Linked DNA regions of Homo sapiens. The protein of the gene in region 1 interacts with the protein of each later gene in a pairwise test. Each region holds a gene or a part of one and is shown on either strand. Other genes may lie near its edges.

Region 1 (2,916 bases):
CCCCTTAGCCTCTGGGGCCTTCTGTGGGGGGTGGACTCTGCCACGGTGACAGTCCCACACACATTCTCACCACCCATGCCCGCCGCGAGGCTACAGTCCAGGCTGACCGTGCCCGTCACCTGGTTTCACACCCTGGTGGGCTGGGATGTCACCGAGCAGCCAGGCAGGCTTTGGCAGTGGATGCCTCTGGGCCCAGTAGCATGCTCCCGACGTAGCCCTGTGGGGCCCAGGGCTGGACAGATGAAACTCTGGGAGTTTTCAGAGGCTTCCAGGAGGCTGCCAGCTTAGGCTCTGAATGCCTGGGCTTGGGGGCCCAGGCCCCGCCCTCAGCAACACGCAAGTCCAACTTTCCCATCCCATCTGGTAGCAGAAGGTGGCCTCAGGTTGTCATGGGCTGTGGGTCTCTGAGGGAGGGGACCGTGGGCTGTGCATCATGACGATCTCTGGTACGCCTATGCCCACACTGGGTCCTGACAACAGGACGTAGCGCACCCCTGGACAGGGGTCTGGAGAGGGGGAAGGCCCCTTGCTCCCCTGTGGCTCAGAGCCTGGAGCCCCCCAGGACCCCCTGAGGCTGGCCCTGGCCCCGCGGGCCGGCTCCGGGTGGCAACCCCCAGGCAGCGCATGTCCCCCCAGGAGGCGTGGCTGCTGAACCGGGAACAGGAGCTGAGGGAAGAAATCCGGAAAGGCCGGGACAAGGAGATTGAGCTGGTCATTCACCGGCTGGAGGCCGACATGGCGCTGGCCAAGGAGGAGAGTGAGAAGGCTGCCGAGAGCCGGTAAGGACCCGCCATGGCTGGGTCACCAGCTGGGGAGGCCCACGAGCTGAGGCGCAAGGACCCGTGTGTGACTGGGCTGGAGTGACCCTGCCCTCCCCCCACCTCCAGCATCAAGCGCTTACGGGACAAGTACGAGGCCGAGCTCTCCGAGCTGGAGCAGTCGGAGCGGAAGCTTCAGGAGCGGTGCTCGGAGCTGAAGGGCCAGCTTGGGGAGGCCGAGGGCGAGAATCTGCGTCTGCAGGGCCTTGTGCGGCAGAAGGAGCGGGCGCTGGAGGATGCGCAGGCGGTGAGTGGGCGGGTGTCAGGTGGGCAGTGGGCACCCACAGGCCCCTCCTGCATGCACGCAGCCAGTCGCTGGCAGCCGGCTCACTGCCTTCTGTGCCCACCCAGGTGAACGAGCAGCTTTCTAGCGAGCGCAGCAACCTGGCCCAGGTGATCCGCCAGGAGTTCGAGGACCGGCTGGCAGCCTCTGAGGAGGAGACGCGGCAGGCCAAGGCCGAGCTGGCCACGCTGCAGGCCCGCCAGCAGCTGGAGCTGGAGGAGGTGCACCGGAGGTGGGCGGCGGGGGCTGCAGGGCTGGAGACGGAGGCGGGGCAGGGGAGCGGGCAGGACCTCTGCAGCTCCAAGCCCCAGGAGGCTGTGGCTGAGGAAGGCCAGGAGATGCAGAGACAGGGCCCTGTAGACAGAGGCTGGTGTGGGTTCCATGTTTGGGGCCCAGGAGACCTAGATCTGTTTTCCTCCCTGGTGCTTAGTCTAGGGTGTCGGCCATCCCTGTTGGGGCACCCGAGTGGGTCGGGTCTGGGCCTGGCGAGTTCTCCAGGGAGTCAGCTCCCGGGGCCCTGGGCTGGGTGGACAGGCGCTGAAAGAGCTGGGGCACTGTAAGGTTCCCAGCGAGCTCCCTCCACGGGGGTCCTGCATCCTTCCTGTGCCATCTGCTGCCACAGGCTGAGAGGTGGGTGTGGGCGAGGTGTCCCACCCCATCTGGGTACCAGGCCTCCCCAGGTGTGGCCAGGGTCATACTCCAGTGGCCTGTGTTGGGTCCTGACTCACAGCAGGTGGGTTGCCTGGACAGCTGTCTGGGCCAGCCACAGGAGTCGTGGTCAGCAGGGCTGGGACCAGGCTGACCAGGCGGCTGCCCCGTGCACCCTGTGCACTGCAGGCCACTCTGGGGACATGGGGCGGGGGCCACACTGAAGCCTACCATGTACTACCCACAGGGTGAAGACAGCCCTCGCGAGGAAGGAGGAGGCCGTGAGCAGCCTCCGGACACAACATGAGGTGAGTCCCTGTGGCCAGCCCTGCTGGACCTCGGGGCTGGGAGCAGGCCTGACCCTGTGGGTGTGCTGCAGGCTGCGGTGAAGCGGGCCGACCACCTGGAGGAGCTGCTGGAGCAGCACAGGAGGCCCACGCCAAGTACCAAGTGACCAGGGATGCCGGGAACACTGTCGAAGAACGGAAGGCAGAGGACAGAGGCTGGACGTGGGCCCAGAGGCCCACAGGGACGCCCACCTGCCCCCCACAGAGGCTGGTGGTTGAGATGCCCACGGCTAAGCACCTGTGGCTGCATTTTAACAGTAAAGGAGGCCGTTGTTTTCAGCGCCTTGAGTGACTGCCTTGTCTTCTCTCCTGGGCTAGAGGCTGCCCAAGACCCCCAGAGCAGCCAGGCGTGGGTTTGGCTCTCTTCCTCCCACTCCCCTCCGCAGCCTGAGCAGGCTGACCAGGAAATCACGAAGCTTGGCCATCAGCCCCCCAGCTAGCAGCCCTCAACACTCAGCCAGCAGCCCCCAGCACTCAGCCAGCAGCCCCCCTGCACTCAGCCCTCAGCTCCCCAGCATTCAACCCAACCCCCAAGTTCCTGTTCCCTGCCTTGCCCTGGACCCTGGAAGTCCCAAGCACAGGGAATTCCCTACCCCGTTCCTGGCCAGGCGCAGGAGGAACTCAGCAGAACTCACCCCCTGGGAGGAGCTCCGAGGGCCCCGCCGTGGCCCTGCAGGTGCTGGAAGCCCATGGCTGCCAGCGTGCTCCTATGGCTGGAGAGACTCCAGAGGGACAGGAAGCCCTACCCTCCCCGCTGTCAAGGTGTGACAGTCTGGAGCTCTCAAGAAATGGGGATGGACAGGGCCCACCCATGAGGATG
Region 2 (7,046 bases), on another chromosome or scaffold:
TCTCTTCTATAAACATTTGTATTGGGAACTTAAGGGAAAAGAAGGCTTAAAAAATTTTTAACTGTCTAATATACTATAAACTTTCTGTTATAGAAGAGAATAATAAAGTTGTTGAAGAATTAATAGAAGAAAACAACGACATGAAGAATAAATTGGAAGAATTGCAAACACTTTGTAAAACACCACCAAGGTATACTTTTACTATTTTAAAGTGCTATTTTAAAGAAATCTAAGTACAAGTATCTTTAAATTTTTTTAAGTATCAATTTTTTTTGTTATACAGCAAAAAGTATAAAAAAGAAGAAAATCCCCCAAAACCTTATTTCCTGAAGATACCCTCTAGTGACCTCTTGTTTTATATCATTTAAGCCTCTTTCTACACATACTCCACATGCACAATGTGTTTTTAAAATTGAGGCTATAGTATAAGGTATTTTATAACTTTTTATTAATATTACTAGATAAGCATTTCTCCATGTTATTAGATATTCTCCTACATATGTTTTTCAATACCTGCATAAATTTTCATGTGGATTTACTGTTATTTATTGAAGCAACCATAACATTTATGTTGTTTCCATTTTTCCCCTATTTTAAATAACTGTATAGTGGAGATTGTTCTAGATGAGATTTTTAGCACTTCTCAGTTAACTTTATTAGAGTATATGGATACATATATATTTTTCAAATGAAATTTTTCACTTACCATTTCTGTTTTTGTAATCTTTGGTTTGTTTTTTAGGTCATTGTCAGCAGGGGCCATTGAAAATGCTTGCCTGCCATGCAGTGGGGGAGCCTTGGAAGAACTTCGTGGGCAGTACATTAAAGCTGTAAAAAAAATTAAATGTAAGTTTAATTCTGAAGATTTTAAGGATGGCTTGGGCCTTTTTTATTATCACTGTTAAAGTAAACTCAGAGTTTACCAGCAGTAGTTCTTCTAGGGAATTTTCCAAATTACCTTTTTCTTCAATCTTAAAAGAGATTATTGATACCTTTTCAAAATTATGTAGTCATTGATCATTTTTCCCAAATAATATCTTTTGGAAGTGATGTGAGAATCGTCTTATGTTTATATTGTTGATTTTCTTGTTTCTTTTTGGACACTAGTATTAAACTGAAAAGTTAATAATCTTACAACTTAACTAATTTGTAGTAAAGAAAATGTCACATGGGTTTTAAATGAGCAATTAACTATTACTTCCTACCATAAACTTTTTTTTTTTGAGACGGAATCTCACTCTGTCAACCAGGCTGGAATGCAGTGGTGCAGTCTCGGCTCACTGCAACCTCCGCCTCCTGGATTCAAGCAATTCTCCAGCCTCAGCCTCCTGAGTAGCTGGGATTACAGACATGCATCACCACACCCAGCTAATTTTTGTATTTTTAGTAGAGACAGGGTTTCACCGTGTTGGCCAGGCTGATCTCGAACTCCTGACCTCAGGTGATCCACCCGCTTCGGCCTCGCAAAGTGCTGGGATTACGGGCGTGAGCCACTGTGCCCGGCCTCCTACCATAAACTTTTAAGGACTGTAGAAGTGGATCTAGTTAGCAATTGTTCTGTTGTTTCTGGTTATTATTTCTCATAGCTATAAATTTATCAAGTCCTTGTCAGTACCAGGTTGTGCCAGCATATCCTGTAGAGCATTCTCCTGATGTGTGTTTTCCCTGTTTTGAATACTTCTTGGTTTCTAATTCTAATATGCATAGAATGGATATATGTCCCAAAACAATAAGTAGTGTTTATATAGGAAAAATGTATATTAACTTCCTAAAATTACATTTCTTTTTAACAAAAAGAGCAGGAAAAGTCTGAAGTTTCAAATATAATTGGTAGATTCAGAATCACGTGTAGATGTTCTACAAAGCTCATTCGGTATTTATAAGGGAATTTGCTTCTCCGTTGTTACTGGTGCTAATAAAGGGCATATTGCTACAAGCAACGCAACTTTTTGTTAATAATGTATTAATTGGGAAGTGGAATTTTAAGCATGTTTTCATCCTAATGTGATAACTTGTATGTATGTGTGTATATTATGTTTTAGTTATTTTTTAGAAAGTTGGTTGGAGGTTTTGTTTTGACATGTACTGCATTTCATTTTCCATTTCAAATAATGAAAAACAGTCTCCCAGTTAGTATTTTTGCATAGAACCACTAATTTTCAGATGCTTACTGACATTAACAGGAAGATTCCTGTATGAATTGGTATCCTTAATATAACAGAGATGGTGAAATTCTAGATGTAGGATGTAGTCTTGGATTTATTAAAAAAAAAAATAAAAGTTAGCCTTAGCTAATAGTAGTCCTAATCAAAGATATATTGAGTTAAAAAAAAAAACTTGAAAGCTGTGGGCTATGTTTATATGTAAATTTCAGAGGCCAACTATAAGTCCCATCACCCTCCTTGTAGTCTCATTTTGTACATATCTCTTATGAATTGTAATATTATATTTAGTTAGATGCTCAAAAAGTGCTGCTGAAAGAATTTTCAATAAATAATGGAACGTAAATTTTCAGAGCACTAGAGAAGAATGAGTCTCTCCAGCTCATACTGCCTCCTTTTCTTCTGTCTTTGTGTTTGCTTTTTCCTTTCTTTCTGCTTAACCTTTTCTCTATATTTTATTTTTCTCTTTTCCTAACTGGACATAATGTACAATTGAAATACTAAGTTTCTGTACCTCATATTTACAGTATTTTCTTCGCTAAGTGTTTTAGAATATGACAAAATTTAGCTGGGGAATATGCCATGTTTCCTTACTATATGTAGCTGTCATCATTCCGAAAGAACTTATAGAGTACTTCTCATTTGAGTCTACCAAAATGATGATCTAAAATATTCCATTTTAATGACTGTGGAAAGTATAATGTTTAAACTATACTTAAAATCACTTCATCTACCAGAAAATTGATCTGAAGTCTGCCCCTCCTGTTTCTGAAAAAGTGCTAATAAACATACATTCTGTGGGCATTTTCTCACTTCCCTATAGGTGACATGCTTCGTTATATTCAGGAGAGTAAGGAACGAGCTGCAGAAATGGTAAAAGCAGAGGTACTGCGAGAACGTCAAGAAACCGCCCGAAAGATGCGCAAATATTATTTGATTTGCCTCCAACAGATTTTGCAGGATGATGGAAAAGAAGGGTGAGTTCAGTCTGAACAATGTGTCCTGAGATTACCAGGACAACATGTTATCATTTTTAAAGCATTTTCCTTAACCACTAAATTAACTATTTCTACATGATCAGCCATAGGGGGTTAAGAGAGGTTTATGGCTGTGCTACCCTAAATGTTGGCAGAGCCAATAGGAAAACAGAAACCATGGGGCTAAGGCAACTCATTTTTTCCTTTAAACTATATTTTTAATATTCTGGAATTCCCCACAGGGCTGAGAAAAAGATTATGAATGCTGCTAGCAAACTTGCTACAATGGCAAAATTACTGGAAACACCTATTTCTAGTAAGTCCCAAAGCAAAACTACACAGTCAGGTATGTCAAAGTGAGTCGCCAAATGGTTTTTCTATCTTTTCTTCTTTAGCTATTTAATATTTTCAGTATGAAGAAGGCAGGGAAGGTAAGGAGTGAGAGTTAATTTGTGAAGTTTTGTATGTTTTACTTAAACTAGAAGTTTACGCAAAAAGAGTACACAGTTTCCAATTTAAGTAGGCAGACTGAGCATGCCCATCAGTTTCCTATTGCTGCTTCCATCCCTCGAAATGATAGAAAAGATTTTAAACAGCAAATAAAGAATGAGAAAAAGAAGAAATTATAAGTGGGTTTTAAAAAGTTGCAGTGGGCCAGGCATCATGGCTCACACCTGTAATCCCAGCACTTTGGGAGGCTGAGGTGGGAGGATCCCTTGATCCCAGGAATTTGAGGTTGCAGTAAGCTATGATTGTGCCACTGTACTCCAGCCTGGGTGACAGAGTGAGGCCCTGTCTCAAAAAAAAAAAAAAAAAGTTTGCAGTGGATAGACCAGAAGCTACAAGAAATCCCTGAGAGAAAGAAGACAGTATAGGATGGAAGATGGAAACCTCAGTTCAAAACCACCGGGAGATGACTATTGCAATTAGGAGCAATATCAAAACTGTTCCACATATGAGGGTGATATGTTCCAGGAGAAATAGAGGGCCTAGGGGATATGAATGGGGTAATTAGTTGGTGTTCTAAACCAACAGCAACCAGGTGGGGTTAATCCTCTCTTTATTTCTTCTTCTCCCCTCCTTTCCCCAACCTCAATATTGAGCTGGGCAACAACAACAGGAACAAAGAATCTGGGAGCAGGGCAGTGCTCCAGGTGGCTAGCCATATCAAGCAGGAACTGGGAGCCGACTTGCCTTGGGAGGCTGAGATGGGAGGATCACTTGAGTCCGGGAGGTCAAGGCTGCAGTGAGCTGTGATCGCACCACTGCACTCCAGCCTGGGAAACAGAGCAGACCCTGTCTCAAAAAAAAAAAAAAAAAAAAAAAAAAAAGTAAGAGTAACCAACAAAAACATAGAACGTATAACTTTAAAACTGGTAAAGGAAAAACTTGGAAAAAAACATTTTCAATCTAACAAAATCAGGAAAGAGGAAAAAAACCTAGAGAGCGTGGGTAAGTAGGACATAATAGTAGTTTGAAACATCAACAATCACACTAAATATAAGTAGGTTAAACTCATATAAGTTATTAAAAGACCACAACTTTCAAATAGGGTTTTTAAAAATGTGGAAATTTGCTATTTTTACAAGAAGAACATCTAAAATTAAAAATCAGGGGATGGAGAATGATATACCAAGCAAATGCAGTGTTGATATTAGATAAATTATAGAGGTAAATAAAAGATTAGATAAATTAGAGTTAGCATTAAAAGGGACAAAGCTGATAGTTCATAATGATAATGGAATAGTCTCCCAAGAAACTGTAATTGTTTTCTTTCTGTAGATCATACAGCTTTATATAAAGCAAGAGCTGATAGAAATACATGAAAAAGACTGGTAAATTCCCAATCACACTGAGAGATTTTTAACATATCAGTGGGGAAATGGGGTTCTTGAACCTCTGGAAAACTTGAAGCTGAGATTGTTCAGGGGTCCATGAGTCTGATGTTGGTAAACATTCCTCATGTACAAGCCAAAGATTATTTGTATAAATTTTGGAATGGTGATGTGAACCTTAGGTATGAAAAGGCAGTAACATATAACAAGAAAATAATTTTCTAGATCTGGGGCAACAGTGTGCAAATAATGTCCCCAGTAGAGAAGCAAATCCTTTTCATGGACTCTAGGGCTTGCTACTCTGAGATACAATGCCTCTAATTTCATGCTATGTGGCTGCTTTGTCTTTGATCAGATTTAGTGTCTTAGGTAATTAAATCAGAAAGTCTATTTAGCTATTCTAGAAGTGTATGTGTAGGTATTGGGTGGGTGGGGTTCTTTGAGCGAACTTGTCAGAAACTCCATTCTTAACATCAGAATCAGGGCAGGATTGAAAACATTGTGGCTGGATCTTGAAATTGCTATAACATCTATTGCAGAAAATGATAGGTCAGATGGATAGCAATAATAATTATATATCAGATCTTAGTAACAAAATTACCAAGCTTTATCTAGTGGATATATGTAAAAGAATATTTTTAAATGTCCAGCATTGATGTATTTTCTTTAAGAATTATTACAGTATATAAGCATTCTTTGGGAATACAGTATAAAAACATAAATTTTTTCTTATTTTTAATTTTTTTTATTTTTTTGTTCAAGGATGAATCTTCCCTTTAAATATTAATTTTCTCTTAATTTCGTGTTTCCTTGCACATAATAGCACTGCCCCTAACTTCAGAGATGCTGATTGCAGTTAAAAAATCAAAAAGAAATGATGTGAATCAGAAAATACCATGTTGTATTGAAAGCAAATCAAATAGTGTAAACACCATCACCAGAACTCTGTGCGAACAAGCTCCCAAGAGGAGGGCAGCTTGTAACTTACAAAGGCTGTTAGAGAACTCAGAGCATCAGAGCATAAAGCATGTGGGATCCAAAGAGACACATTTGGAATTCCAGTTTGGGGATGGTAGTTGCAAGCACCTAAACAGTTTGCCAAGGAATGTTTCTCCTGAGTTTGTTCCTTGTGAAGGTGAAGGAGGCTTTGGTTTGCACAAGAAGAAAGACCTACTCAGTGATAATGGTTCTGAATCACTTCCGCATTCAGCTGCATACCCCTTTCTTGGAACCTTAGGAAATAAACCCTCACCTAGATGTACCCCTGGTCCTTCTGAATCAGGATGCATGCATATAACCTTTCGCGATTCTAATGAAAGACTTGGTTTAAAAGTATATAAATGCAATCCACTAATGGAAAGTGAAAATGCTGCATCTGAGAAAAGTCAAGGTTTGGATGTTCAGGAACCTCCAGTAAAAGATGGAGGGGACCTTAGTGACTGCTTGGGCTGGCCTTCCAGCAGTGCAACCTTATCCTTTGACAGTCGTGAAGCATCATTTGTACATGGTAGGCCACAAGGAACTTTGGAAATACCAAGTGAATCTGTTAAATCCAAACAGTTTTCACCATCCGGTTATCTTTCAGATACAGAGGAAAGTAATATGATTTGTCAAACAATGAAATGTCAGCGTTATCAAACTCCATACCTGTCAGAAGAAACCACGTATTTGGAGCCAGGAAAGATCAGTGTGAATTGTGGACACCCATCTCGTCATAAGGCTGATAGATTAAAGTCAGATTTCAAAAAACTGAGCAGTACATTACCATCTTCAGTGTGTCAGCAGCCTTCAAGAAAATTAATTGTTCCGCTATCTAGCCAACAAGATAGTGGCTTTGATAGCCCATTTGTTAATCTAGACTAATTATGGTACAGTATTTAAGAAGAATCATTAATATATTAACAAAAATGGAAGGGAAGACCTCATACTGAAAAAAATTGTGAGCCCTGCCTCTTTTGAGATGTTTTAATAACATCTGTTATATAAGTAAAGCATTCTTCTAAAATTGCTTGAGATATTTATGTTGCCTTAATATTCCAAAGGCCTGATGGTGTATGTATAATCTGCTTTTG

What was found. Proteins that work in one complex are often made in the same cells at the same time.
Region 2: the proteins of CEP131 (region 1) and CEP152 interact in binary tests that used the Homo sapiens proteins (3 or more experiments, as listed by UniProt).

The regions. Positions count from the first base shown.
Region 1 is NC_000017.11:81,189,056-81,191,971, reverse strand, and holds the end of CEP131 (centrosomal protein of 131 kDa), read left to right. Parts: intron 1-621; coding exon of another isoform or gene 622-636; coding exon 637-779; intron 780-887; coding exon 888-1,065; intron 1,066-1,169; coding exon 1,170-1,333; intron 1,334-1,996; coding exon 1,997-2,057; coding exon of another isoform or gene 2,058-2,128; coding exon 2,129-2,203; 3' UTR 2,204-2,376; downstream 2,377-2,916. UniProt on the Homo sapiens protein: Component of centriolar satellites contributing to the building of a complex and dynamic network required to regulate cilia/flagellum formation.
Region 2 is NC_000015.10:48,738,040-48,745,085, reverse strand, and holds part of CEP152 (centrosomal protein of 152 kDa), read left to right. Parts: intron 1-93; coding exon 94-190; intron 191-742; coding exon 743-846; intron 847-2,985; coding exon 2,986-3,139; intron 3,140-3,381; coding exon 3,382-3,485; intron 3,486-5,797; coding exon 5,798-6,837; 3' UTR 6,838-7,046. UniProt on the Homo sapiens protein: Necessary for centrosome duplication; the function also seems to involve CEP63, CDK5RAP2 and WDR62 through a stepwise assembled complex at the centrosome that recruits CDK2 required for centriole duplication.